Homo sapiens: one gene and its partners. The protein of the gene in region 1 interacts with the protein of each later gene in a pairwise test. Each region holds a gene or a part of one and is shown in the gene's direction. Other genes may lie near its edges.

Region 1 (7,000 bases):
CAATCCCTTTTCAACCTATGTCTGCTTTGTTTTTATTTTTATTTATTTATTTATGGGTTTTTTTTTTTTTTTTTTTTTGAGACAAGAGTTTTGCTGTTGTTGCCCAGGCTAGAGTGCAGTGATGCAATTTTGGCTCACTGCAACCTCCGCCTCCTGGGTCCAAGCAATTCTCCTGCCTCAGCCTCCCAAGTAGCTAGGCATGTGCTACCACACCTGGCTAATTTTTGTATTTTTTTTTTTTTTTAGCAGAGGCGGGGTTTCACCATGTTGGTCAGGCTGGTCTCGAACTCCTGATCTCAAGTGATCCGCCCACTTCGGCCTCCCAAAGTGCTGGGATTACAGGCATGAGCCACCGTGCCCAGCCTGCTTTGTTTTTAGACCTGGTTTCTCTTATGTGTCTTCTGACACAGTGCAGTTACACTAAAGCGGGTTACCCAAAGAATCTACCTGATGAAGAGAGTGAAGCTTGAAGGTCAGAGCAGACCAAGAGAGGCCAGGAGCAGAGCTCTTGTGAGACAGGGACCACGTGGAGGTTATCAGGGCTCTGGGCAAGGATGCTAATAGACCAGAGATGTCAGATGTCAGAATCCCCACCTTGACCAGTGGTTCTTCACCATTAATCCCTATCAGACCCTGATGACAGCCTTGGATTTCCCTCTCTCCTGGAAAATGCAAAGGCTCACACACCAAAAAAGTATTTTGGAGTAGCTTCAAGTTTCATAAACCCCCAGCTTCACCTCTGTGCTTCGCAGCATAGTAATTAAGGTCACACTCTGGATTAAATGGCCTAGGGTGAAATCCTCCTTTACTAGTTAGCTGTGTAACCTTGAGCAAGTTACTTAACTTGGTCTTGGGCCTCCAGTTCCCTCACTTTTAAATGAGGATAATCATAGCATTTGATTGTAGGATTGTTAGAACTAAATGAGTTAATGTATGTGACATTCCTAGCACGTGGTTAACTCTATAGTAGTGTTCACTATATAATAGTATTGCTGCCCTTGCACCTTAGCCCATTTAGTAAATGTTTATGGACAGAATGAATGAATAATTCTAGTTGAGATGCCATGCCTGGGGTAGAGCATTCCAATCAGCGTGTCGCAGTTGGTCTATAGGTTTTTTTGGGTTTTTCGTTTGTTTGTTTTTGAGACGGAGTCTCACTCTGTCGCCCAGGCTGGAGTGCAGTGGTGCAGTCTTGGCTCACTGCAAGCTCCGCCTCCCAGGTTTATGCCATTCTTCTGCCTTAGCCTCCCGAGTAGCTGGAACTACAGGCGCCCTCCACGCCCGGCTAATTTTTTGTATTTTTAGTAGAGACAGGGTTTCACCCTGTTAGTCAGGATGGTCTGGATCTCCTGACCTTGTGATCTGCCCGCCTCAACTTCTCAAAGTGCTGGGATTACAGGTGTGAGCCACCACGCCCAGCCAGTTTTTGTTTTGTTTTTTTCTTTTTTTTTGAGACGGAGTTTCGCTGTTGTTGCCCAGGCTGGAGTGCAATGACACGATCTCGGCTCACCGCAACCTCTGCCTCCCAGGTTCAAGCAATTCTCCTGCCTCAGCCTCCCAAGTAGCTGGGATTACAGGCATGTGCCACCATGCCCAGCTAATTTTGTATTTTTAGTAGAGACGGGGCTTCTCCATGTTAGTCAGGCTGGTCTCGAACTCCTGGATGGTCTATAATTTTGCCAAGATATTGATCCGCTCGCCCCTCAGGGCTGTCAAAGCCCCAGTTGGTCGCTTCTGGCTTGAAGCAGTGACATCTGCAATGTGAACTTCTGACTTTAAGCAGCAGCATCTGCAATGCAATGTACAAATATCTGTCTCTCTAGGTCCCCTGACATGAAAACAGTTTGGGTAGCACCAGTCAAAGATATCGGTTGGTAAGTCGTGAGAATCCAGTAGGCAGTCCAGATTCCAAGTCCAGGAGAATTTTGAGAATGGATGTCAAAGAGAGTCTTCACGACTGCACTGAGTTTAGAGGCCGTGGGCTTCCTGCAGGCTTCACAAGTGTTGGGGTCCACTGCTAGAGCAGGCTGCACACCACAGTGGGTACAGAAGATATCCTGCCAGCAGGAAGCTTCAGTGCTTCCCACCTTGCACATGAGGGACCCAGGGAGTCACTCACAGGATGTGTGGAGAGCCCACAGTGTGAGTTGCTGGAGAAACCACTGTGACGCAGAAACCAGGCTAGAGCCCAAAGCCTTGTGTAGGCAACGGACATTAAACAGATAGTGATGAGTACTGAAGTAGGTTGAGCCCAGAGGTGTGAGTGCTAGGAAAAGGTGGTACCTAGGCTGTGGGAGTTTATAACAACCCAGCCTTGTATGCAAGGTGGACTCTAAGAGCTGTAGGAAACTATGGAAGGGTTTTAGTCAAGGAAGTGGTATGTTTAGATTTGTACTCTTTTTTTCTTATAAATCTACTTTTATTTATTTACTTTTCATTAGCTTAAGTCCTTGAGGGGCACAGCGTCACACAGATTCTGTGTTCAATAGCTTTAGCAAGATTGCTTGGGAATTTAGCACAAACCATGCCACTGTTTCCATGGGCCTGAGTTTACCTTTCCCCAGATTATGCTGGTTTTCTTCAGTTTGCTGCCAGCAGTCAGTGTGTTGTTCTTTGCTTTATACATGTAAGTACATCTCTTGCCTAAATAGAATTAGTTTCATTTCGAGCATAAATACCTTCAATTTTTTTTTTTTTTTTTTTTTTTTTTTGGGACGGAGTCTCGCTCTGTCGCCCAGGCTGGAGTGCAGTGGCGCGATCTTGGCTCATTGCAAGCTCCACCTCCCAGGTTCATGCCATTCTCCTGCCTCAGCCTCCCAAGTAGCTGGGACTACAGGTGCCCACCACCACGCCCGGCTAATTTTTTGTATTTTTAGTAGAGATGGGTTTTCACCATGTTAGCCAGGATGGTCTCAATCTCCTGACCTCGTGATCCACTGTCCTCGGCCTCCCAAAGTGCTGGGATTACAGTCGTGAGCCACCGCACTTGGCCAATACCTCAATTTTAATAAGAGCTGTGTCCTCGCTTTGGTTCTGGAGGCCCCACTTACAGCTAGCAAAAAATGGCCTTGGACTACAGCCTTCCAAATGTATTGTATTTATCTTATTATTATTTTTGAGACAGAGTCTCTTTATCACCCAGGCTGGAATTCAGTGGTATGATCAAAGCTTACTGCAGTTTCAAATTCCTGGGGTCAGGCAGTGCTCCCACCTCAGCCTCTTGTGTAGCTAGGATTGCAGGCATGTGCCACTACACCTGGCTAATTTTTTTTTTTTTGTAGAGACAATGTCTTGCTGTGTTGCCCACATTGGTCTTGAACTCCTAGCCTCAAATAATCCTCCTGCCTCAGCCTCCCAAAGCACTGGGATTACAGGCATGAGCCACTACACCCCGCCCATATTTGCCTTTTGGAAGTCCTGTTCTCAGCAGGCCTCTACAGGCTCCAAGATAGTGGGAAGAGAGCTTTTTTTTTAAATTCACCCTGACAGCATAAACATGAATGTTAGAACATGAGTTGGAAGAGGCTGAGGCAGGAAGATCACTTGAGCCCAGGAGTTCGAGGTTACAGTGAACTGTGATGGAGCCACTGCACTCCAGCTGGGCGACAGAGTGATACTTTGTCTCTAAAAAAGGAAAGAAAAGAAAATGAATTGGAAACAGACAAAAGTTTATCTGAGGACATAAGTTATAAGGCTCCTTATAGTTGTCCAGAGGTGAAAGGTGAGACATGCCTGAAATAAGTACCTGGACTTTTAAGGGAAAAGGAGGACTCAAGCATGATCCCCCCCCCCCCCGCCCTGAAGTTCTGGGTGGAAGGCGATACCACCCCTGGGATAGGGGATACTGGAAGTACAATAGTTCTGGAAGGTTGGGACACATTGTGAGTTCTGTTGAGGACTTATTCCACGTGTGGTACATGTGGGATGTTCCCTGAGGATGGTTAACAAGCTCAGTAGATAAATGGGTCCGAGCACAGGAGAGATGTTGGAGTAGGCAGAGAGAACCATCAGCAGTGGGGTTAACTGCCTGCCTTCAGCAGGGCTCCTTCCTAAGGGGAGAAAGTTTAGAAATGGGTTTTGATCAGTGATTTCTTACTTTATGACCAGTTTGATTGGCATGCTTCTCTTCTATGCTTAACTTTTAGAATTCTTAGATAATGTGTATTTTGAGCCCTTTTCATAAAAACCAATATAGTTCACTACTTTGAAGAATTCATCTTTTTTCTTCTTGGCTGGCTGGCCTCATTAACTCCTTCCCTGAGTGTCTTTGCGATAGGAGAAAGCTGGTTAACTCATAATGTGATACTGTTTATTTTCTTAGATTTGTGACCCAGAAGGAAATCTCTGACCTCAGCTGTGGCTCTTGGTGCTGGCCAGAAGCCAACTTCATGTCTGAGTGCACGAGCAGCAGTTTGCCATGGAGAGCTTGGGGCTGCACACGGTGACCCTTAGTGATGGGACAACAGCCTACGTCCAGCAAGCTGTCAAAGGTAAGTATTTCTGGGGACCTCAGGATCCTGCCCTGTCCCTCAGCCTCTGGAAAGGAGTGTCCATTTCTAAGAGTCCCACCATCACCTTGCCCTCCCGCCTGCTTACCCTTGCCCACCACCACAATTTGCTCTGCATTAGAATCTCCTGTGGTGCTTGATGAAAAGGGAACTCTAAAATAAAATGCTACAAGTCAGACAATCCCAGTCATAGGAACCAATACCTCTCAAAGACAGAATTCCTAATATGTAATAAGCAGTTGATAAATATTTCTGGAATGAACACAGTGTTAGTTATGACTCCCTGCTTTTCAGATATCCCCTGTCACAGTTTTTTAGTGCTTTCTAGAAGCAGTTTATCATCTTAATTCAAGTATATTCAAACATTCAAACTACTAAGCATCTGCCATGTACAAGATGCTCTTTTAAGCCAGGCATAGTGGCTCATGTCTATAATCCCAGCACTCAGAAGGCTGAGATGGAAAGATCACTTGAGGCCGGGAGTTGGAGACCAGCCTGGGCAACATAGCAAGACTCTTGTCTCTAAAAAAAATAATAAAAATAATAATCTGGGTGCAGCAGCATGCACCTTTAGTCCCAGCTATTCAGGAGGCTGAGGCAGAAGGATCACTGAAACCCAGGAGTTTGAGGGTTCAGTGAACTATCACTGCACCACTGCACACCAGCCTGGGTGACAGAGCAAGATCCCATCTCTTAAAAAAAAAAAAAAAAAAAGATACTCTTCCTGATTCAGAGAGGAACACCCAAGCAGAGATCTCATGCCCTAATCCCCACTAGGGGATGCCAGAATTGAAAATATAGGACATGTAGTTAAATTTGAATTGGACGTAACAATGAATACTCTTGTAGGATACATACATCCCAAATGTTGTAGGGACGTATGTATACCACATACTAGGGACATACATATACCCCTTATAAGGGATAGACATATATAAATGTGGGATTAAGCTGGGCTTGGTGGCATGCACCTGTAGTCTCAGCTACTTGGGAGGTTCAGATGGGAGGATCTCTTGAGGCCATAAGTTTGAGGTCAGCCTAGACAACAGCAAGACCCCATCTAAAAAAAAAGTAGGGGGTGTTAAATACTATAAAATACTAAAATAATAATACCAAGTTCTAAAAAAAAAAAAAAAAGTATTGTTTATCTGAAATTCAGATTTACCTGGGCATCCTGTATTTTATCTGGCAATTCTATCCTTACACTGAAGGTACTTAAAATCAAGGTAGGTGTGGAGTCAGAATAAAGTGTTTAGGGCAAGGCCTGCAGGCCAGGGACACTTTTCCTTTCTTGCCAGTGTTCTCAGGCAGCCAGATAGCATTCGTGTCTTCCTTGGACAGCACCTTGAACAAGGCAAATACTGCCTTGTTCCTACTGTTCATTTGGCGTTTTCTGGACTCCATGATTGTCACTGTCCTCCTGAAGCACTGTCATTGCAACATTGCCCTCCTTTATTTCAACACACTCTCAGAATATATTTCTGCTCCTAAGTTTACAGATAAGTTGTTTATTGATTTCATTTTAAGTTGTCTGTTTCCTGATGATGACTAAGGAGTCCCCTTAATCTCATCAGTAAGCACTTTCCATATGACAGTGTGTGGGGGTCCCTTCTGGAAAGGTTTCTTGTCAAGAGCTGTCTGTGACATGTGGGTTCTTGTTGGCTTCATCTTCTTGAGAACGCAACTTCTCTAGAATGCTTTTGAAGCCTGAAACTCTCTGTTTGCAGACTTCCCACTCCAGGTCTTGCCCCTCCAGTGCAGTCTCCATGGGATGGAAGAACTTAGAACTCTAGCTAGGGTTGTGTTTACTCCTTGGACCCAGTTAGTTCCCGTGCCTCAGTCTTCCACTGAGAATTAATGGTCAAACAAATGAATAAAAAGCAAGTGACCACACCTGACCTGAGAGAGCCACTCTTTCCTTATATCTATCCTTCTTACGTATTTCTTTATTCTGTCAGTCTTCCTGGCTGTTCTTTGCCCACTCTGTAGTGTTGCAGTGTGCACTTACACACACACATATGCAAACACACACTCACTCACAACAGATTTTCCCTCTGCTCAGGGTAGAGCTCTCCTTCAGAGACCAGAACCACACTTTCCTGAAAGGCTTCTCTGACTTCTCCTCTGAAGCTTTTGACTGAGGCATTTTTGTCTCTGTCTGCTGGAAGCCCTAAAATTGTAAGAGACTTATCTTTAATTAGGATGAGTATAAAATGTATTATTCAAACCCAGCATTTTAAAAGTGGAAGAATGTGCTATTAATAAATGCACTAGGACTGTTCCAGGCAAACTGGGGCGTATGGTCACCTCTCTGTAATGGGATATGAGGCCCTTGTCAGTCAGCTGTTCTCCCCACTGCCTCTCTCCATTGTAGTCTCTGGTTGTTTGAGGAAATAGTAGGCTAAGTTTTTTCTTCAGACAACTCTTCTCAACATTTTGTTTTCTACCTTGAAGCAGTACCCACTCTGCTGGCCGTAGCTTGCTGATGCTTT
Region 2 (7,538 bases), on another chromosome or scaffold:
CTAAATTGAGTGTCTTGCCTCTGAATTGGATCCCCTGACATGTTGGGTTTGGTTTCCAGAAATGGAATGTATAAATGTCTAGCAAGTACTGGATACTTTGTACTGGCTATTGTTCAAGTTCTCTGACAGAACTTAGACCTGAAGAAAGCCACATCACCCCACCACAGGCCCATCCTCTAGTGCTCAACCTCCAACCAGGTCCTGGCCCAAAGGGACATGGCTGGCTCTGAGGAACATTCCTGGGAGGTCACCTGCCAGCCCTGGGTGCATTGTAGTGAGAAAAGCCCTGCTGAGTCAGCTCAGGGATTTTAATCCAAACTGAGTCCCACCCCAAGGGTCTTTCTGGGCCATTCCATAGTAGAGATTAATGGACTTCTGTGGGATTCAGCCATTCTCCCATTCTCTGGGGGTAGAAAACAGCTTAGCCCCTGCTAGCCTCGGTTTTTTCATCCACCAAGTAGGTATGATGAAACCATGCATCAGTTCCTCATGAAGAATAGGTAGAATTATGCAGGTAGAAGCACTTGCCTTGGTGCCTAGTACAGTTGCAAACTTTCAATAAATATTAGTTATTATTACTACCATATGCTACTATGTTGTTATTATTATTATTATTACCATCAACAGCAGTAGGCACTAAAATCTGTTTAAGGAAAGCTTTTTGCTAGGGGTTCCTCATTTGCAGATGGGAAAGCTGAGGTCCCAGGGGAAGTGAAGCGTCTTGGCTGGTATAGATGCTATTGGAGGACCTTGGGAATGGGACCCAGCTCATACAAGAGGCGAATGCTTTTAGAAAAGCCTCAGAATGGCCGGGCGTGGTGGCTCACGCCTATAATACCAGCACTTTGGGAGGCTGAGGCGGGTGGATCACGAGGTCAAGAGATTGGGACCAACCTGGCCAACATGCTGAGACCCCCGTCTCCACTAAAAATACAGTAATTAGCTGGGCGTGGTGGTGCGCACCTGTAATCCCAGCTGCTCGGGAGGCTGAGGCAGAATAGCGTGAACCCGGGAGGAGGTGGAGCTTGCAGTGGGCTGAGATCACGCCACTGCACTCCAGCTTGGGCGACAGAGCGAGACTCCGTCTCAAAAAAAAAAAAAAAGAAAGAAAGAAAAAAAAGCCTCAGAATGTGGAAAGGGCATTTATTGGCTGAGCTGCACTGTGTGTGTGGGCATGGGGGTGCAAGGTATGTTGGAGCTGCTGCTTACAGGTGCAAGAACTGAGAGCTAAGCTGACTTTCCTGGGCTTGTCTGCCAAACGACACAGGTGAAAGTGGTATCCCCTGAATCAGTCTTGGGCAGAGATAAGTCCCCACCACAGTAAGGCTGTTCCTCACCTACTGACAGGCTAGTGACATGCAATGGGAAAAGGGCAGGACCCCAGCAGGTTCAAATCAGAGAAGCAGGAGCTGCAGAGAGCATTTTTAAAATATAATTTTAAATTATAAAAGTAATTACTATATATGCTTTACATTCACTGCATTTGAATGTTATCTTTTACTAATGTTACTGAAAAATAATCACTTTACAGAAAATCTGGAAAAGAGAAAAAGGAAAAAATTCCATAATACATCTCCCTAATATACCTTTTTCCAAATATTCTTTTGAATAGTATTTTGGTATCTTTCCTTACCTTTTCCCTAATATTTTAAAAAGCATTTTATTAGTTTTTTTCTGCTTTATAAAATAATGTGCTCATTGAGAAAACTGAAAAAAGCGAAGAGAATAAAATAAAATATCCACTGCACAGATAACCACTTTTACACTTTGGCATTTTTTTTACTCCTCCTAAACAATTTTTTATTGAGGTAAAATATACATATAATTTACCATCTTTACCATTTTTAAGTGTACAGTGTTTATGCTTTTTTTAAGAAAAGTTCCTGAAGTTCATACCGCTTCATATTCTTTTTTCACATTTCCTAATAAATCTCAAACCCTTTTCTACATTAAATATTCTTCTGTTGTATTATTTCTAAGACTTCATAACATTCCATTTTACTTAATAATTTACTGTAACTTATTTACTATCCCCTATTGTTGGATATTTAGGTTTTCCCTTTTAAAAACCTTATAAACATCCTTGTAACTACATCTTCACAAACATTCTTGATTATTTTCTTTGGATAAATTTCTATAGAGATTGGGTCAAATGCATCACATTTGTAGCCAAAACGTCCTGAGAAGACATTTCCCCTCTTTGCAATCCCCACTAGGAAATTGTTTTCTAATTTCCCCACAGCCTAACCAACAATGGGTATTATCATTGCCCTTACATTTGACTAAGATTTTTACATATTTATAATCCTATGCTATTGCATTGTGCTTTTAAAAAAAATAGTATTTCACAAGCATCCCCATGTTATTGGGTTTCATAATTGGTTTCCATGATTCCATAACATACTACCAAACAATTTAATCTACTTCCCTAAGCCACTTTTCTTTTGTTGGCTATTTAGGTTATTTTTCTCCAAAACATAATACTGTAATAAACATTTTCACGCATGAAACTTTTATAAAAAATTCTAGATTATTTCCGTGGAACAGACATTCAAAAGTACTACATAAACTAAAGGGTATGAAAAATTTATGAGTTTGATACATATTGCCAAATTTCTTTCCAAACGGATGTTAAGAGTTTATAAGCACCCAGCAGTATTGGTGAGTGTCCAAGCCCCTTTCGCCAGTCCTGAACTCTAGGATGCCCCTCCCGCGCGTCGGGCATCTCACAAACAGAAAAAGCTGTGCACGTGTTGTTTTGTCTTGCGTGTTTTTCACTGCAAATGAGGCTGGCGTTTCCCCGTGTTTGCTTACTAGTTATATTTCTATAGAACACATTTTGGTAAACACTAAAAATGTCACTGGGTTCTTTTGCTTTTTTCTTCTTGTGTATATTGTCTCGCGCGCGGAGTCACCTCGCAGGTAAACAAGGGAAGAGATGATGCCAACCCAGTACCAGGACACACAAAAGTCACTGTGACCTCATTGGAGACAAATTCTAAGCAGCGCAGACGACCAGGCCATTCTCCCCCGCCCCATGCTCCTCCCTTAAAGGTGAGCAGGTGTCCCTTGTTTGGAGATGACACCAGGGGAAACAGCAGGGAAGGTTCTGGAAGGCTGGGGAGGGCACACAGTCCCCCTTCCCGCCTAAGCTGAACCCCACTAGGCTGGAAGGACACGTATGTCTGCATTTCTGGAAGGAAATGCCGTGGGGGCTGGGGGCAGGAGAGCGGCTGGGTCTTGGGGCAGACGGGGTGGGCTTCCCGCGCCTGCAGCCCGGAGGCGTCGAGCGCCTGATGGAGCGTCAGAGGAGACCTCGTCCCAGCGTTGGGCCTTCTGTTGTATTTCTGCCAGAAACTCGCGTTGAGGAGAATTTGTTTTAAGCGTTTCTCTACCTGTCCATGCATCTCGTAAATACAGTAAGCATGGCAAGCCCTTTCGCTGGTTAACCCCGGCGTCCGTGTGCTCACTGCCGCCCTGCACGCACGAGGTCGCGGATGGTTCAAAGCACCCGCGGTGGCAGCCGGAGAGGCAGAGCGGGCTCTAGGGACCTAAGACAGGGCCGAGCTGGACGACTGGTGGCAGGGCGGCCGGGGAGGCCCCGCCGCGGGGAGGTTTGGGCCCCCTACCCTGCGGAACTGGAGGCAAGTGCGGACTCCGGCTGCAGGCCGCGGTCTGCGGGGACGCGCGCGGGGGGCCTGCGTCCCGCCACCTCCGCGCACAGCCCCTGGTCCCCTTCCCCAGCCCGGGCCGGCGCCGCCCGCCGCGTGACTCGCGCGTTCCGGGCCGAGTACGGGCTGTCCCTTGGCCCAGCCTCAGCCAGACGCGGGGGAGAGAGAGCAGGGGCTGGGAAGTGCCGGCAGGAAAGGAATTGGCCAGGGGAAAGAGGAGGAGGAAGATAGATGGAGTCATCGGTTACGGAGCGCGCTCCGTCCGGCGGAGCGAAGCCGGGGACCGAGAGCGCGCAAGGCGAAGACACAGCGACGCAGCCCCGTCCCCGGCCTCCGGACCGCCTGCCCCGCTCGGCCCCGGCTCGGCTCCGCCCCGCCCCTGGGTCCGAACGGAGGAGTGAGGAGGACACGAGCCGCGCGGGCTTGGAACCCACGAAGACCCGCAAACCCAGGGCGCCGCCGTCTCCGACCACCTGCTGCCGCGGCAGGCCATCAGCAGAATTTATACCCAGGGCGCGAGCCCGCCACGGCTGGGCGGAGGCGGAGGCGGAGGCGGGGAGGGGGGGGGGGTGCCGGCTTGCGAGGCCCCGCCCCGCTCCCTGCCGCCCCGCCCCCCTCCGCCCCGCCGGCCTCACTCGGGGCGCCGGGACCCCCACTCCCTCCGGGGTCGGCTGCCCGCCGCCGGGTTGGGGGATGTGCCGAAGGGCGGGCCTCCCTGCGGAAAGCGACGTCACGGCCGCTCCTGCAGTGTGAATGAATCAAAACGCCCGGGTGACCGCGGCCTCCCGGGCGGCCGGCACGCGAAGGGTGGAGGGGGAGGGGGAAGGAGCGGGCGGGGGAGGGAAGAGGAAAAAAGCCAGAGCTGCAGCAACAGCGTCTCAACCTGGGATGTGCACCAACCCCGGAGAGCGAGATCAAAGGGACTGGAAACAGACTGGGGACTGGCGGGGGGAGGGGGCCGGCCAGCCTGTGGAGTCCTCCCTGAGAAGCGGAGGGCCCGGCTTCCACCGTGACTCCAGCGGCCTGCTTGGGGTTTTAATTATTATTTTGAAATTTCTGAATCGAGCTAGAGCGAGAGAGCGAGAGATCTCCGTAGACTGCGACTCGCTGGCTTTCGCTCCGAGATGATGCAGAGTGCGACTGTCCCCGCGGAAGGGGCTGTCAAGGGGCTCCCGGAGATGCTAGGTGTGCCGATGCAACGTAAGACACCCCCCTTTCTCGCTGATTTAATTCTAACAAGACAGCTAGCAGCCTCAGCCGCTGCGGGGCGGGCCGGACGCCGCTCAGGGGCCGGGAGGGGCTGGCGGCCGGGGCGCAGAGGCGGTCACAGGGCAGGGGCACCAGCCAGAGTGCGTTTGAGGGGGCCAGGCTCTTGGCTGTTTGGGGCCGAATGTGAACGCCTCCTGGATCATGCTTGAGGCGAGCCGAGTACCGAACCCCGCATCTCCAGCCCAAGGCTTTTCTTGGAACGCTGGGGAGAGTGCTGTTTGGGGACACCCAGGGGTACGAGCTGTAGGCCAGGCCTGAGGGCGAGGGTGGTCCCCACAAATCTTCTTTCGCCGGCGTGACGGTCAGCGCTTGCAGGACCGCTAGTGCAACTTCACCCCAGCTGGCGGGAAGTTGGAGAGCGCGTCTCTCGCCCCTGGGGCTGGCGGCGGAGAAGCCCCGGCCACACTCTTAGTCCCTGCGGCCCGCGCCCCGGGCGTGCGTGCCGGGTGAGTCCCCAGCCGCTACTGCCCGCGGCGCCCGCCGCGTGCGCCGCGGGAAACTGACTGCTCCTTGTGAGGGAATCTGCTCGCGCATTCCAGCTAGCCTAGGAATGCAGGGGAGGGAGAAGCGACCGCAAGTTGTGAATTCCGGGTTCAGCCTTTGCGCACGCGAGGGCAGGTGCTCAGGGTGGCTCGGGTTTGGAGGGGTAGAGACGGGGGTGTGTGGGAGCTTTGCTAGCCTGCCCGCCCGCTTTCTTCCCGCGCCCGAAATTAGCGAGACAGCCGGAGCTCGCGGCGTGTTTATCCCCAAGTCTCTCTCTGTGTGTATGGGTGTGCGCGCGCAGAGATTTTCCCGAAGGGAATCCGTCTCTGTGCTTCACTCCTGAGCGAGAGTCCCCGAGAGGGAATCTGTGCAGAGGCCAGAACAGGTGCCCAGTCGTCGCGCGCGCGCGCGCGCGCGCGCGACAAGCGCCGGGAGAGTCCTGCCCCTGTGGCTTGCACGCTCAGCAGGGCGCCCCGGGCACCCTGGAGAGACCAAGGAGTTCCTCGCTCCGCTTGCCAAGGGGTTGTACTTCCGCCTGCGACTTCTTTAGTGGTGCGGTAGCTACATCTTCGGGGTTTACTTTAAGTAAGGGCCGGCTCATCCAGGGATGGTGACTACCTACAAACTAGGGCGCACGAGCGCGCCCTCCTGCGCCTCGGGTTTCCATGGCAGGGTTTCTGTCCGGCGATCCTTCGGAGGGCAGGCGTACCGTAGGCTTCCCTGGGAAGTTTTTGAGAAGGGACTAGAAAAGAATAGCTTCATCCAAGCCTATTTAGATTGTTTCTTGGCTGTATTCTACAGTTATTCTTTGAGTGTTTTCGTGTCAACTGCCGGCAATCAGTTCCACGTCTGTGTTGAGCCTTGGGGAGTTTACCGCTAAGATGTTTTCATAGAAGGCATTGGAGATTCACTACGCCCCACACCCCGCACACAGGCAGGGACAGAGTGGGTTCTCAGCCCCTGCAAAGACGGAAACAGAAACCCTGCAAAGGTGCACCGAGTCCTTAAGCTGCTTGTAGCTCTGCGCGAGTGAGGAGACTGCATGAGTGGGGGAAGGGTGTGTGTGTGTTACTAGTGTCCTTGGTACCCAGTACGTCTGTGCTTTCATGGCTGTGGTCCGTAGGTGACCTGTCTGTTGGGACCCCAATGAAGGACGATGGTCTCTGCTCTGACGGCCTTTCTTGTGATGAGTGACACTCTGATTGTCTCACTTTTTGCCTTCCCTGTTCAGAGACAACTTTGATGTTCGACGTCAGGGAGTCGCTTTGCTAAAATGCCCAGAACTCACCTTCAGAGCTACAGTTTGCCAAGGCTGAGTCTAGGTTCACACTGTGGAAAACTTGAGGTGTACAAAGGAACTTCCACACCCACCCCCCCAGGGTGGCCCAGGGAGGCAATGTCTAATCTAGAGGGGGTGGTCAGTCCTCCCTTTGTCCGAGTTTCGTGACCTTGGTTGGAGGAGGCATCGGCCAAAATTGAGGGGCCCACTCCCTGAAGACTTCTGGATCCAGCTTTTATTTCCTCTTGGAATGTGAATGGATTGTAGCCTCCCTTGCAGCACATCTGGCCTCTGGCTGTTAGGCTGTTGGTGCTGGGACCGCGGGATAGGTCCCCATCACCCACATATACACAACTATTAGTTTTCTTGGGACTGGGCCCAGTGGCCTAAGAAGGGGGGAAGCTCGAGGGGTTGTGGGGCACACCCTTGGGCCTTCCGGGACAGTAGGCTCTTAAACCCTAGAGGAGGGGAGACAAAAGAAACGCTCTCCCACAGGGGTCCCTCCAGTCGCCAACTAGAAGGGTTTCCCTCTCAACACAGACATGTTTGCCTCTTCATCACATGGAGTCACCACGAATGGAGCACTTGGGGACGCAGGTCTAGGTGTCCCCAAGCTCGGTGCCTCTAGTGCCCTCCCCTCTAGGGGCATTTTAGAAGAAGTGATTTAAATCCAGCTTATTTCGGCGGCAGCTGGACTATTCCTTTGCTTATTTGGGGATGGGTGAGGGGCATACCCTTTAGGAAAACGTTTCCAAATGATGTAATAATTTCTCTCTCATCTCTGGTCTTGCTCCAGACTTGGCCTCTTCCTCGCCACTCTGTCCCGGCCTCCCGCC
Region 3 (7,000 bases), on another chromosome or scaffold:
TTGCATTGCTGAGAGAGACTTAACTTTTTTTAGATTTAACATTCCTAACCACGGTATTCAATAAATAAATGTTAAGTGCCTAAAATGTACACGTGTTGTTCTAGGAGCTGGGTGTACAGTAGTGAACCAAAAGACAAAGTCCACGCCCTGCACAAAATAGGAATTACCTCCATGTAGAGGCGAGCCTTCAAGAGCTGAAGTGGCTTGCTCTGGTCATAAAACTAGAGGGCAGCAAGCTCTGAAGGCAGATTGCTGGGACTCCACACCCCTCTAACCATAACTCTGCTGTGTTCCTCTTGACCCTGATGACAGGTACCCGCAAGATGGAGTACAAGGGCAGCAGCTGGCATGAGACCTGCTTCATCTGCCACCGCTGCCAGCAGCCAATTGGAACCAAGAGTTTCATCCCCAAAGACAATCAGAATTTCTGTGTGCCCTGCTATGAGAAACAACATGCCATGCAGTGCGTTCAGTGCAAAAAGGTATCTCAGATGCCCCCTTGGCCCTTGCACGTTCTGGCTGGTTTGCCTCCATGGTCCATGTCTGTCAGTTCTCTTTCCAAAACCAAGGATACCTGTGATACTTAAGTGGCGTGGGAGCTGTGCCTGTCCTGCCTTACATTCTGAGCATTTATCCATCGGGTCTGGGTGTCCATCCTTCTTTCAAAGACATCAACATTGTTGAGCTCTGTGATCAAATCGTTTAACCCTGCCTTCTTCTAGACCATTTCTAAATATGTTCTTATGTTGATAACCTGAGGTTAGAGGGAAGGGGAGCCACCATCCCAAAGCTGTCTTGTTCAGCTTCTCTCCATGAATAAAACAAGAAAACAACTGCAAACTTGAGAGGGAGAGAAAGATGGAAGGAAGAGGGAGGAGAGGAAGGGAGGAGAGAGAGACGGATGTGAGAAGAAAAGTAAAGGAGAAAAGTCTGCCTCCATGGATATGGGACAGATCATTTATTAAATGTATCTACTCTGGCCGGGCATGGAGGCTCATGCCTGTAATCCCAGCACTGTGGGAGGCCAAGGCTGGTGGATCACCTGTGGGAGGCCAAGGCTGGTGGATTACCTTAGGTCAGGAGTTCAAGACCAGCCTGGGCAACATGATGAAACTCCATCTCTACTAAAAATACACAACTTAGCTGGGTGTGGTGGCACACGCCTGTAGTCCCAGCTACTCAGGAGACTGAGGCAGGAGAATCACTTGAACCCGGGAGGTGGAGGTTGCAGTGAGCCAAGATCCCACCACTGCACTCCAGCCTGGGCGACTGAGCGAGACTCCATCTCAAAAAATTAAAAAAATAAATAAATAAACTTATCTACTCGATAATGTGCTATTCCAGTCATGGCTCTGTTAGGGTTAAAGAAAGAAAGGGAACTGCATATCTGTAGGAAGCCATCTCTCTGCCCAGTTGCCCCCCGACCTGCACCCTTCAGGGTGTAGCTTAGTTTTCTGCTGTGCCCTCTGACTCTTAGACACACGCAATTCTTATTATGCTATAGCTTCCAGCGTCTCTGTCCTGTTAGGATTTGCATCAGCCTGTTGAGTGGCACCCTCCCACTGCTCACTCGCCCTGGGCAGCGCCAGCTGTGGAACTCATCACAGGTTCTGTTCGCTCTCCTCCTGTTATTGACTCTGCTCACCCAGCTTCTGCTGTTTTGCCCTTGGGGCCTCTACCCTTGCGTCTGGGCCATGGAGAAACATCCCCAATGCTGCTACCTGTACCTGGCTGGCCTGGGCAAGAATATCCCCACCTTGCCCACACCTTTTCTAAGTGCTGAGTATTCTTACCAATTTCCATTCAGTCTTTCTCTCATTTCCTTTTTTTTTTTCTTTTTTTGAGACAGAATCTCACACTGTCGCCCAGGCTGGAGTGCAGTGGCTCGATCTTGGCTCACTGCAACCTCCGCCTCTTGGGTTCGAGCAATTTCTCCTGCCTCAGCCTCCCAAGTAGCTGAGATTACAGGCGTGCGTCACCATGCCCAGCCGGTTTTTTTTGTATTTTTAGTACAGACGGGGTTTCAACATGTTGGCCAGGCTGATCTCGGAACTCCTGACCTCAGGTGATCGACCTGCCTCCACCTCCCAAAGTGCTGGGATTACAGGCGTGAGCCACCATGCCTGGCCCCATTTGTTCTTTACTGTTATTTTAAATTTTATTTCTCTTTATTTCCTCTCCTTTTATGCTTCTGTTTTTTTCTTTTTTTGAGACAGTTTCACTCTGCCACCTGGGCTGTAGTACAGTGGCATGATCTCAACTCACTGCAACCTCTGCTTTCTGGGTTCAAGTGATTCTCCTGCCTCAGCCTCCTGAGCAGCTGGGATTACAGGCAGGTGCCACCACCAAACCCACCTAATTTTTTTTTTTTTTTTTTGTAGTAGAGACGGTGTCTCACTTTGTTGGCCAGACTGGTCACAAACTCCTGTTTTTTTCTTTATTCTTAGATTGAGCTCTCATTCCTGCTTTTATTTTAGGAACCCTCTTCCCTGTTCTCTCCCCTTTTTATTTTTATTTTGGTTTGTTCTTCTCATCAAGACCTAACGGAAGTTCATCTGAGTTGCTCTTCCTCTGTCATCTTTCCAATGTGTGCTTTATTCATTTGCAGAAATGAAAGCAACACATCCTTCTGGGATGCATGCTTTTTGTGTGCATGTTCATTAAATACACAAAAACATTCATGCCAGAAGCATCCATTCCTCGACATGAACTTGGCCCTCTCAGGCACTGGGGATCTGATGCTGGACAAGATGCAGACACTTAACTGTAGTCTAGGTGGAAGTACACTCCAGTGTCAAACCCGTCAGTAGTTACTGAGCAGTGTGCTATGGAGGAGAAGAGCAGAGTGTGGAATGGAGGGACCTCAACTAATCTGAGGAGTTGGGGGCCAGGGTGGTGTTGAGGGAAGGAGTCTCTGAGAAAGTCATGCTATGCTCAGAGGCATTGAGTTAGCTGATGTGGGTGGGAAGCATGGAATCCGGAGCAAGGGAGGACTGAGGACACATGTTGCAGGCAGAGATGTCTTACACACACAGGCTACTGCATTCACATGGATACGTTGCAACCAAGCGTGTTTGGTGTTCATTCTCTTGTGCAGTGGGGTGGGTTATACTAAGATGCTTCATGATTTATGGTTTAATGAAAAGAATACAAGATAGAAGGGAGTCCAGAATTCTAGTTCCTGCTTCGTCATTAACCAGCTATGAATTCTTTGGCAAGTCACTTTTTAATTTCTCTGAGTCTCAGTTTACTCATCCATAAAATTAAGATAATATCTTTCCTACTTCACAAGCTTTATGTAAAGACCAAAGGAGTTACTGCATGATACTGAAATGTTCAAAAAATAAAAAGCAAAAAAGTGTGATTGTGAGGTGCTTGCACTCCATCTTCCACAGCCTTCGTTTGCCAAGCTGAGGCCACCTACACTCCTCTCTGATAGCTTACTCAGCTCCACCAAGCACTCATTTTTAAATAGAATGTGAGATGCAACATTTGGAGAAAAATATCAGGTAAAATTGAGGTACTGATGGCCAGTTCCACCTCATGTGGCTTTGCAGCTTCACCTCACAGATGTTCTAAGACCACAAGACAGGTGAGAATGAAGGCATCCAGCTTATTTTTCCCAAAACTTCCAAGATGCCCATCTCTTCTTGTGGCATCAGCAGGTGCTAGTCCCGGCTGTCCTTTAAGCCTCTTCCTTCTTTCACCGTAAGTGGCTGGAGAGACAGGCTCGTGAGTGGCATTGGAGAGGTTACCACTTGCCAGGGTTTTTGTTTTGTTTTGTTTTGTTTTGTTTTTGAGACAGTCTCACTCTGTTGTCCAGGCTGGTGTGCAGTGGCATGATCTTGGCTCACTGCAACCTCTGTTTCCAGGGTTCAAGCGATTCTCCTGCCTTAGCCTCCTGAGTAGCTGGGAATACAGGTGCACCACCACACTCAGCTAATTTTTTGTATTTTTAGTAGAGATGGGGTTTCGCCATGTTGGCCAGGCTGGTCTCGAACTCCTGACCTCAAGTGATCCACCTGCCTCGGCCTCCCAAAGTCCTGAGATTACAGGTGTGAGCCACCAGCCCTGCCAGGCTTCTAAGTAAGGACTCCTCATCAACTTGCCCAATTAACCTCATCACCCTCACTTCCTGGATGAGAAAACTGAAGTGCAGAGATCTTTATCATGACCTGCTCCCAGCCACAGGGCTGGTAAGGAGTAGGGTTAGGATTCAAACCCAGGTCTCCTTGATGCTGTATTGAATCCCGACCCCTCCACTGTGCTGCTTCCCTGCTCAGAAAGGTGGCAACACCACTGAGGCACCCTATGCCTTAGATCCCCAGCATCCCTGGGAAGGGCTGAGGGCAACCCCAAGCTCCAGTTTCACTAACGGGAAAGCCAGGGCCTATGACACTGGAATGAAAGCGTGTGGTGAGGGTGACGAGTGACTGTGAAGTTTGTAAAGCAGCTTCTTGGTGACTTAACAAACTGGACGTTTCTGGATGAGGATCTTGCATCGTCCAGTGGCAGTAGCTGAGACTGAAGATGTCTGCCAAGCACAGAGGCCACACTAACTCTCCCCCTCGTCCCTGCAGCCCATCACCACGGGAGGGGTCACTTACCGGGAGCAGCCCTGGCACAAGGAGTGCTTCGTGTGCACCGCCTGCAGGAAGCAGCTGTCTGGGCAGCGCTTCACAGCTCGCGATGACTTTGCCTACTGCCTGAACTGCTTCTGTGACTTGTATGCCAAGAAGTGTGCTGGGTGCACCAACCCCATCAGCGGTGAGTGTCCCGGGGTTCCCATTTCCAGGGGCGATTGGAAGCTTGAACAAGGCCTAGCATTTTAGCCTGTGACCCTGTCTATATCCCTCAACTCCCCAGACCTCCCTAAGGCTCTGAACACAGCAGACTTTTCTGCCTATCTGCTTTCCTCTCCTTGGTGCACTGGCTATGCTTCAGCAAGTAATGATTCCTTCCTCTGCAGCCCACCTGATCACAACCATATGGCCAGTGCTCCAGTTTAGTTTCTGCTTTGGGTTGGATTATCGCTAAAACTGCAGTCTGTGAGCCTGTGACATCACAAAAGCACAATAAAAACTGGCCTTTTCAGGCTTAGCAGCTGTGCTGTGTTCTTAGAAGTGTCCCCTAGCATCTTAGTGGGACGGTTGTACTCCAAAACATCTTAATGGGAAACTTCTACCACAAGGCCATAGCTATATGAGGGCAGAGGGTACATTCTAAGGAGTTTTTCATATTGTATTCCCCCAAAGAATTCAGCTAAGTGAGAGCCCAAAATCTGGCTGGCTGGCAGACCAGGCTTCTGGACTAGACTATTAAGCAGGCTGGAGAAATTCAGTGTGGAGAACAGAGGAGTTCACACTAAAGTCCTTTAAATGGTCACCACATATCGCTACACAAATGAGTGACTGGGTGGGGAGAGAAAAGTGTGTGTTCTGTAATAACACAGGAGAAGTTTTATGATGTGGGATTTGCAATCCCGTTGCATTCAGTTGACTGGTTCGTTCCTATCAGAGGAAGGTGGCAGACACTTGGAGTACCCGGTGGCCTGGCTTTCCTGTGTGGCTTTTCAGTGTAACTACAGAAACACATCTATACACCCCCTGTGTACTTGTCCTTGACTTTCCTTTCCCTTAGGCCTAGAACCAAGTTCACCTAACTCAGCTAACTCACCTTCCCAGGTCGCTAAAACAGTACTCTCATGTGTAATGCAGAGCTCATTACATTTCCATGTGAAATTAAAATATGAAGAAAAGCACAGTATTTACACTTTACCTATGTTAAAATATCTGTTTCTGGTCATTTATATACCAGATTTCCCTTGGAATCTTTTAGGGGGAAAATGTAATCTTTTGCCAGAACATATTCATCTTTAATGCTGTTTTCAGCAGTAACTTCTGTTGAGGTAAATGTTTATAACATTAAGCTTTATAAAGTGATACAATCTATATAAAAGCACTTTTAAATGTAAAACATTAGATATGAATGTGAATTGTGGTTATTGTGGCACTGAGAAAAAACACTAGGTAAAAACCAACTGTATTATAATCACGGACCAATGTACCTTAAATATTTGATTCCATTCTATCTGTCTGCAGCTTTCTCAGGATCTTCCCACTGCGACAATATCCCTCTCCCCTCATTCCCACCCACATCGCACTTTATCTGTGAGGCCTTTCCTGGCCATCCCAGGGAGGATTAACCTTTTCCTCTTCTACACTCCCTTCACTGCTTCAATCATTAAGTCATAAAAATTTGAGCACCAGGCAACGTGAGGCACCTAGTGAAGACATAAGAGAAATCTGCTCCCTCTTCTCATGGAGTTTCATTTTGTGGGAAAACACATAACAAATACACAGTCAGCATTCTTTGATCGCACTTATCCCATCGTTTTGGAACCAGTTTATATATCTCTTCTGATATTCACGAGATCCTCCAGGCTGTGCATAGAATCTGATTTACATATGGATTCCCAACACCCAGTCACTAGAAATTCACATTATCCATATTACACAATCCAAACTTTGAAATGGATCAAACCAGAATTCCTTCTTCAGTCCCAGTTGCCTGATTCTAACTTTCTTCATCCGGTATTATTTTCTCTCTGTTAACAGGACTTGGTGGCACAAAATACATCTCCTTTGAGGAACGGCAGTGGCATAACGACTGCTTTAACTGTAAGAAGTGCTCCCTCTCACTGGTGGGGCGTGGCTTCCTCACAGAGAGGGACGACATCCTGTGCCCCGACTGTGGGAAAGACATCTGAATTCAACACAGAGAAGTTGCTGCTTGTGATCTCACACACAGATTTTTATGTTTTCTTTCTCACCCAGGCAATCTTGCCTTCTGGTTTCTTCCAGCCACATTGAGACTTTCTTCTAGTGCTTTTCAGTGATACTCACGTTTGCTTAAACCCTTTAGTGCTTTGTGATAGTTCAGTCCCAGGGAAAGAGAAAACTCGCCCTAGGCCCTAGGTGGGAAGATGGTTTGAAATTTT
Region 4 (7,541 bases), on another chromosome or scaffold:
CATCTGAGCAAGTCAAATGGCAAAGATGTAAAAACTGGAAAGGTTAAGATATACTTGGAAAAAGGTGAGCAGAACATGTTAGCTGAAGCATGAGCAATGTGCAGGGGAACCAAAAATAAGAAAAAAGTATCTTGCACTGTGGCTGCATCACATATGATCTTAACCACTAGACAAGTTTATTTATTTTAATATGTATATTTTTTGAGGTGGAGTTTTGCTCTTGTTGCCCAGGCTGGAGTGCAGTGGTGCGATCTCGGCTCACTGTAACCTCCCTTTTCCAGGTTCAAGCGATTCTCCTGCCTCAGCGTTCCAAGTAGCTGGGATTACAGGCGTTGGCACCGTGCCTGGCTAACTTTTTGTATTTTTTTTAGTAGAGACGGGGTTTCACCATGTTGGTCAGGCTGGTCTTGAACTCCTTTTTTTTTTTTTTTTTTTTGATGGAGTCTTGCTCAGTTGCCCAGGCTGGAGTGCAGTGGCCTGATCTCGGCTCACTGCAAGCTCCGCCTCCTGGGTTCAGGCCATTCTCCTGCCTCAGCCTCCCGAGTAGCTGGGACTACAGGTACCCGCCACCACGCCTGGCTAATTTTTTTGTATTTTTAGTAGAGACGGGGTTTCACCATGTTGGCCAGGATGGTCTCGATCTCCTGACCTCGTGATCCACCTGCCTCGGCCTCCCAAAGCGCTGGGATTACAGGCATGAGCCACTGCGCCTGGCCTGGTCTTGAACTCTTGACCTCAGGTGATCCACCCGCCTCGGCCTCCTAAAGTGCTGAGATTACAGGCGTGAGCCACGGAGCCTGGCCCTAGACTGAGTTTATAAATGATTTGACAGACAATGGCAGAGGAGAAGGGTATGCTGATTGGGAGCAGAGATGAAGTCAGGAAGATCTGGAGAAGTGAGTCAGATTGCTGTGGAGGGATTGGGGAGGCAGGTGGACTGCTTAGGAGGTGTTAAGGTAGTCTCGTGGGTGGCATGGGAAGAAGAGAGAGATGCCAGAAACACTGAGTGGTGAATTAACATGGTGACTAGGTGAGGGAGTTGAGGGAGAGAGACAAGAAGTAAAGACGGCTCTTAGCTTGGAGAGGTGTCCCTGGAAGAATGGTTATGCCAGTAATAGAGGGGTGAGTTTGCAGAAAGAAGCTGACTTAGGAGGCAAATCATGAAGTCCTTTTCCCATCTGTTATGCTTGTGTTGCCTACGGCATACTGCTACCTGACTGACTGCTGGCATGACTCCCCATGCCTTGGGAAGGTGGAGAGTGAGTCAGAGGATTTGATTGACCCCTGGGCTGAGGGCCCTTCCTTCCTGTCTCCCCCGAGACCCCCTAGTCCTTCATACATGTGCCCGATGAATACAATGCTTGGTATACAGTAGACACTCACAATATGTGTGGAAAATAAATCCATTTAAAAGAAGAGCTGTCCAGAGAAGTTTCAGGCCAAGGATGATGATTAGAGTGAGGCAAAAGAGAAGGAGATAGTTTCTAACAATGAGAAGCACCAAATTTGAGTCCCTGGAGGTGGTCATTTCCCAGAGATTAAGGTCTCCAAGGTCTGGTGCAGGCTTGCACTTTTTACCACTTGAGTGGTAAAAAACTTGGTGAAGTTAAGGATGTAGAAAGACTGTGGTGTCAGGGTGCCACATTTGTGAATGCTGAAGTTACCAGGGGTACTGGCAAAGAATAAAAATGAGTAAACTAGATCCAGGCAAAAGGGCAGCCCTGCTTTGGACTGGGTGTGAAGAAAGGTGGCATAAAGTAACCTGAAAAGGGAATACCTACTAAATTATAATAGAGACTGAGCAACAGTCTGAAAATTTCTCTTCCATTTAGCCAAGGAGAATGGCAAACACACAAGTTCTGTTTCCTTAAAACCCAGAGTTGAGCTAATGTATTCTTTCTTTTTTCTTTTTTTTGAGACAGAGTCTCATTCTGTTACCCAGGCTGGAGTGCAGTGGCGCAATCTCAACTCACTGCAACCTCCGCCTCCCAGGTTCAAGCGATTCTCCTGCCTCAGCTTCCTGAGCACCTGTGACTACAGGCATGCACCACCATGCCTGCCTAATTTTTGTATTTTTGTAGAGAAAGGGTTTCACTATGTGGGCCATGGTTGGCCAGACTGGTCTCAAACTCCTGACCTCAGGTGATCCTCCCACCTCAGCCTCCCAAAGTGCTGGGATTACAGGCATGAGCCACTGTGCCCTGCCTAATGTATTCCTTCTAAATTCATAGCTGGTGTGTGTGTGTGTGTTTCCCTTCAAATGAGTGGTTAGACTAAGATCAGGTGTTGCAAACTGAGGACCTGATATTCTGAAGTGACTGAAATGCTTAAGTCCATTAACAAAATGTGAATTAACATTTAAAAATAAAGAGAAAAAGAATCTACCTTTTTGGTTTTCCTTGAAAAGTGGAATCTTCTGGCAACACTGGGCCACAGTCCAGTATGACCAGAGGATCTGAAGCCTGTGTTTATCAATAGGCCACACCCCACCACTCACAAGACGAATGCCCCTGGACATAGCTTGGCCACCAAAGGCTTCTGAATTCCTGACTTCTGGGCCTCAGGTTCTTTAAGGCCCTTTCGCTTTTTTTTTTTTTTTTTTTTCTGTATCTCCTCATATATTTATTCTTTTTCTGTGATCAGTGTCCTTTGCATGTTTTTGTTGGGTTGTTTGAATTTTTTATTTTTATTTTTTGGGGATGGAGTCTCACTCTGTCGCCTAGGCTGGAGTGCAGTGACACGATCTCAGCTCACTGCAACCTCCGCCTCCCAGGTTCAAGCAATTCTCCTGCCTCAGGCTCCCAAGTAGCTGAGATTACAGGTATGCGCCATATGCCCGTCTAATTTTTGTATTTTTTTTAGTAGAGGTGGGGTTTCACCATGTTGGCCAGGCTGGTCTCGACCTCCTGACCTTGTGATCCACCCACCTCGACCTCCCAAAGTGCTGGGATTACAGGCATGAGCCACCGCGCCCAGCCAAGGCCCTTTCGCTTTAAAGATTGTCCTTTTTGATCTCTTCATGGTATAGTCCTACCAACTTTTGACCTCAGTTCAATTATAAGTACTACAACATTACATACCTGCTCATGTCTACCATAGATTCTGAAAATTAACATACAAGCAAATGAAGCCCACCTGCTCCAGAAAGTAGCTTTTTGTTTTTGTTGTTGTTGTTTTTGTTGTTTTGTTTGAGACAGAGTCTCCCTCTGTCGCCAGGCTGGAGTGCAGTGGCGCCATCTCGGCTCGCTGCAACCTCCGCCTACCGGGTTCAAGCGATTCTCCTGCCTCAGCCTCCAGGCATGCGCCACCACGCCCAGCTAATTTTTGTATATTTAGTAAAGAAGGGGTTTCACCATGCGGGCCATGGTTGGCCAGACTGGTCTCGGTCTCTTGACCTTGTGATCTGCCCTCCTCGGCCTCCCAAAGTGCTGGGATTACAGGCGTGAGCCACCACACCCGGCCGAAAGCAGCTCTTTATCAGTGTAATCCATCCAAATTTCCCTCTTTCATTCTTTCGATGCCCCCAGAGGGAGTGGGAGTGCTACACAGGAGAGTCTGCGGACCAGGGCTGGGCTGCTGCCTGAAGGCTAAGATTCTGTGTGGTGGTAGAACAAGAAGTGTTGGGGGGCATGTAAATACAGGGACTGCCAGAGTGAAGGTTGCAGAACCGGGCTTGGAAGGATGATGAAGAAACTGGGCGACACTAAAGCGCCAGTTCAACAAGTATTGCGTATCTACGACGTGGTAGGCATTGTTTTGACACTAGAGATTCAGCAGTAATTCAACCAAAGTACCTGCTCTCATTGAGCTGAATTTCCGCGCGGGCACCTAGGTAACGCATATAAACACTCGTATCACATACATACACATGTACATGTCAGGTAGAAATGCTATTTATAAAACTGAAGCAGAGCATGGGAAGAGCGAATGAAGGTGGCTATTTGAGAAGACCCCCAAAAAAGCGAGACTGCAAAGCACTCGCGGTTGTTCCTTTTCTGATCTTCTAGCTACAGGCAGCGAGGTGCGCTCCCAGGAAGGCCCGCCCTCTTCCTCCTGATAGGGCGCAAGGTGCCAGGGACGCTCCCCCGCTCTTCCCCGCCCAGAGGCGGCCTTGTGGGGGCGGAGCTTTGTGCCCAGCAACATGAGCGCGGCGCGCAAAGAGCCGCGCGCGGAAGGGTCCCGGCATTCTCCTCGTTCTCACTAGGCGTGGAGAATTACTCCAGGCGGATCGTGGCATGATGGGAACTGTAGTTGACGACCGCCGCCCCGCGCCTGAGGGGCAGTAAAAGTCGCCAGGTCCGGCTCCATTTCTGGCACAAAACTTGCAGCACCGAGGGGTTGTGGAGAGCCCTTGCAGGGGAAGAGGGCAGGGTCATCCCGAGAACCAACGGGCACGTATAGCCCGGCGAACGCCCAAGCCGGTCACCGCCCCCGGTCACGTGTCGCCAGCCTCCGCGGCCGCGCGCCGCTCTCAGCACCGTTCCCGCCCCACCCGGCCCGGCAGTCGGCCCGCGCCTCCCCCGGCGCTACTGCCACCTCGCGCTCGGAGGCGTCACAGAACGTGCTCTTCTCTCCCCTCCCCCCTCCCGCTCTCCCCCTCCTCCCCCTCCCGCTCCAAGATTCGCCGCCGCCGCCGCCGCAGCCGCAGGAGTAGCCGCCGCCGGAGCCGCGCGCAGCCATGGCCGAGAACCCCAGCTTGGAGAACCACCGCATCAAGAGCTTCAAGAACAAGGGCCGCGATGTGGAAGTGAGTGTGCTTCCGCGGTCTGGGCCCGCCTGGCCGCGCCGGCCCGGCGACGCGGGGAGGGGCGGGGGGCCGGCGCCGGGCTGGTTCTCGTCGGCTTGTGGTCGGCCGGAGTTGGCCGCCGCCTCCCGTCACCGCGGCCCCGGGCTGGGCGGAGCGGGCGGCGAGACGCCGGCCGGGCTGCAGTCACCCCCCGGAGCTGCCGGCGCGGCGACCGGGAAATGCCGGCGTTTTCGGCCCCGTCACGCGGGCGCGGCCTGGTGTCGGCGAGGAGGGGATGTGGAGCTGAGGCGGGGTCCGCGGGCCAGGGCCGCCCGGATGAACGGGGATGCTGCCGCCCGGGCCCTCCGACCGCACAGCCGAGGGGGCGGCCGCTGCTTGCGCCCGCCACCGGTGCAACCTTCCGTCCGGTGCAGCCCCCTCTGCGCCTCCCGCGCGGCTCACATGGAGCCTCGGCTCTGCCGGTCCGGGCTCCTACCTTCTGCGAGCCGGGCCCAGGCGGGCGGTGGCGGCCCGCAGAGGGGGGTGGGGACCAGCCGGGTAACTGACTTGTTTGAGGGTGATCGATGGGGGAGGGTAGGATGCGCCAGGACCATTTTCTTATATTCCAGTGCTCGTCTTTGGACTAGTCGTGCCGAGCTGTTGCAGCTCATACTCCTGCAACTGCTGGCATTTGGAGCGAGCTGAAGGTGGACAATAGTTTGCCATCTATTGTGTTCAGGCTTCGGAAAAGAGGTTGCTCCGACCTCCGCTCATAGGACTTGTTTTCTTAGCCTTTCTTGGAGTGGGGTGTGCATAGGGTGATAATTTCTTTGACACGTTTTACTAAAATAAATTGGATACACAGGTTCATAATTCTCTTACATACCTCTTGCTCCAAGCTAGTAGAATTTCCAAGTGGTTGCAAAACTAAACATTCATCGCGGTCACTCAGTTAGTTGCTACTCAGCATGTTGCCATTGTCTCATTAAGGTGACATTAGCAGGTACTATTTGCAAACTCGGCTTATTGAGGCAGCGCTAGAGGTCTCTCTGCAGCTACTGAAAACAGTAAGTATAATGCACAAACTTCACTGGGACCGTGACCTTTGGATTTGTTAGGGGGAAAATGGTTTTAAGGCCGCAGCCTTCTTTGCTAATACTAGGCGACATGATTTGCAGTTTTGTAATTTTTGATAAGCTAGTGTGATTAAGAGGTGTGTTTTATCCTGTCTTAAGGAAGGTTGTGGGGTAAATATACCATTCAGTGTTCTATTTTGTAGAGAAACAGACAAACTCAGGCCGTTTTTCAGAGCTACAAAATTAAATACTAGTAGGAAAGAACCTAGGGAGATATCCGTGGAATTCCCATTTAAATGAGTCAAATAAAGATCATATATTCTTTCCTGGTCATGGTTAAATACCCTTTGTAAGAAATACATCTAAGCGAAAGTAAAACTTGGGAATAGGAACAAGAAATTTTGGAACTGCCTCCTGTTATTGGTCCACTTGATGACAAGTGTTAATTTTGAACTTTTCCCATTAGGAATTTTTCTTGAAGCCTATCCTGTTCCAAATAAAAATTTATTGAAAAATACTCATTGTTTGTACAGAAAAACCAGTAACATTCTTCTCTCGGATATTGGTACAGGTTTTTGTTTCATTGTTTACCTCTATTGTGTTCTGGTAGCTCAGTGATACTTAGTAAGGACTCCTGCACATAATAGGTACACAACAAATATTTGCTGATAAGAATGTAACCCGTGACTTTTAGATGCATGAAAAAGAGCATGGTTGCTAAGCCATTCAGCCTGGTATTGGTCACAACATTACATTTCTCGGGATTCTATAGTGTAACTAAAACATGAAATAGACATTCAAATGGTAGTTCTAATGTGGCAGACACTGTTACGAGCTTCATGATACCTTATTTAATCTGTGTAACAAGTATATGAAGTGTGGCATTATCCCCACTTTACATGAGTAAAGTATTTTTTGAGACGGAGTCTTGCTCCTTTACCCAAGTTGGAGTGCTCAGGCACTCATAGCTCAGCTGCAAGCTCAAACTTCTAGGTTCAAGGAATCTTCCCACCATGGCCTCCCAAGTAGCTGGGACTACAGGCGGACACCACCACACCTGGCTAATTTTTTAATCTTTTTTAGAGACGGGGTCTCGCTTTGTTGCCCAAGCTTGTCTTGAACTCCTGGGCTCCAGTGATTCTCCCGCCTCGGCCTTCCAAAGTGTTCGAACTACAGATGCTAGTCGTCACACCCAGCTGGAACTTTAGATAAAAAACCTCAGTGTGCTTATGTAGCCTGTGCATGTCACTCAGTGGATATGGGTATTATTTATTCACTAATTGTCTATTGGGTATCTATCAATGTTAGGTCTTGGGGATAAGGAATAAGATGCAGTCTGTACTTCAGGGAGTTTACAGTCCAGTGGGGGTGATAATTACAATGCAGAACAACAATTGTTACAGTATAGTATTCCGAAAATGCATGCCAAAAAAACTACTTGGAGGTGAGCAGAAAGGGAAGATACTCTGGTTGATTTCTAATGGATGAATGGGAGTGAGCTGATTGTGAAGGATGAAAGAAAGGTGGCCAGGCAAAGGGCGGGAGAAGGCTGGTGGAAGAAAGGGGCATTCCAGACTAGAGGGAGCAGTAATTGAAGAGTCCTGAGAGAAATGTAGGAGAGAGAGAGACTAAAGGGTAAACTGGGGTCAAATCTGATGAAGGGCCTTTATTGGGGATTTAGGCATATCTAAGAGTAGATAACCATGCTTAGTCTTGTCCATTAGAAACAGTACAACTTA

The links.
Region 2: the proteins of ZNF76 (region 1) and LHX4 interact in binary tests that used the Homo sapiens proteins (3 or more experiments, as listed by UniProt).
Region 3: the proteins of ZNF76 (region 1) and FHL2 interact in binary tests that used the Homo sapiens proteins (3 or more experiments, as listed by UniProt).
Region 4: the proteins of ZNF76 (region 1) and KPNA3 interact in binary tests that used the Homo sapiens proteins (3 or more experiments, as listed by UniProt).

Annotation. Positions count from the first base shown.
Region 1 is NC_000006.12:35,276,735-35,283,734, forward strand, and holds part of ZNF76 (zinc finger protein 76), read left to right. Parts: intron 1-4,321; 5' UTR 4,322-4,417; coding exon 4,418-4,490; intron 4,491-7,000. UniProt on the Homo sapiens protein: May be involved in transcriptional regulation.
Region 2 is NC_000001.11:180,225,735-180,233,272, forward strand, and holds the start of LHX4 (LIM/homeobox protein Lhx4), read left to right. Parts: upstream 1-4,529; 5' UTR 4,530-4,795; coding exon 4,796-4,871; intron 4,872-7,538. UniProt on the Homo sapiens protein: May play a critical role in the development of respiratory control mechanisms and in the normal growth and maturation of the lung. Binds preferentially to methylated DNA.
Region 3 is NC_000002.12:105,361,052-105,368,051, reverse strand, and holds part of FHL2 (four and a half LIM domains protein 2), read left to right. Parts: intron 1-312; coding exon 313-482; intron 483-4,580; coding exon 4,581-4,767; intron 4,768-6,617; coding exon 6,618-6,769; 3' UTR 6,770-7,000. UniProt on the Homo sapiens protein: May function as a molecular transmitter linking various signaling pathways to transcriptional regulation. Negatively regulates the transcriptional repressor E4F1 and may function in cell growth.
Region 4 is NC_000013.11:49,789,644-49,797,184, reverse strand, and holds the start of KPNA3 (importin subunit alpha-4), read left to right. Parts: upstream 1-4,502; 5' UTR 4,503-4,678; coding exon 4,679-4,747; intron 4,748-5,116; exon of another isoform or gene 5,117-5,793; intron 5,794-7,541. UniProt on the Homo sapiens protein: Functions in nuclear protein import as an adapter protein for nuclear receptor KPNB1. Binds specifically and directly to substrates containing either a simple or bipartite NLS motif.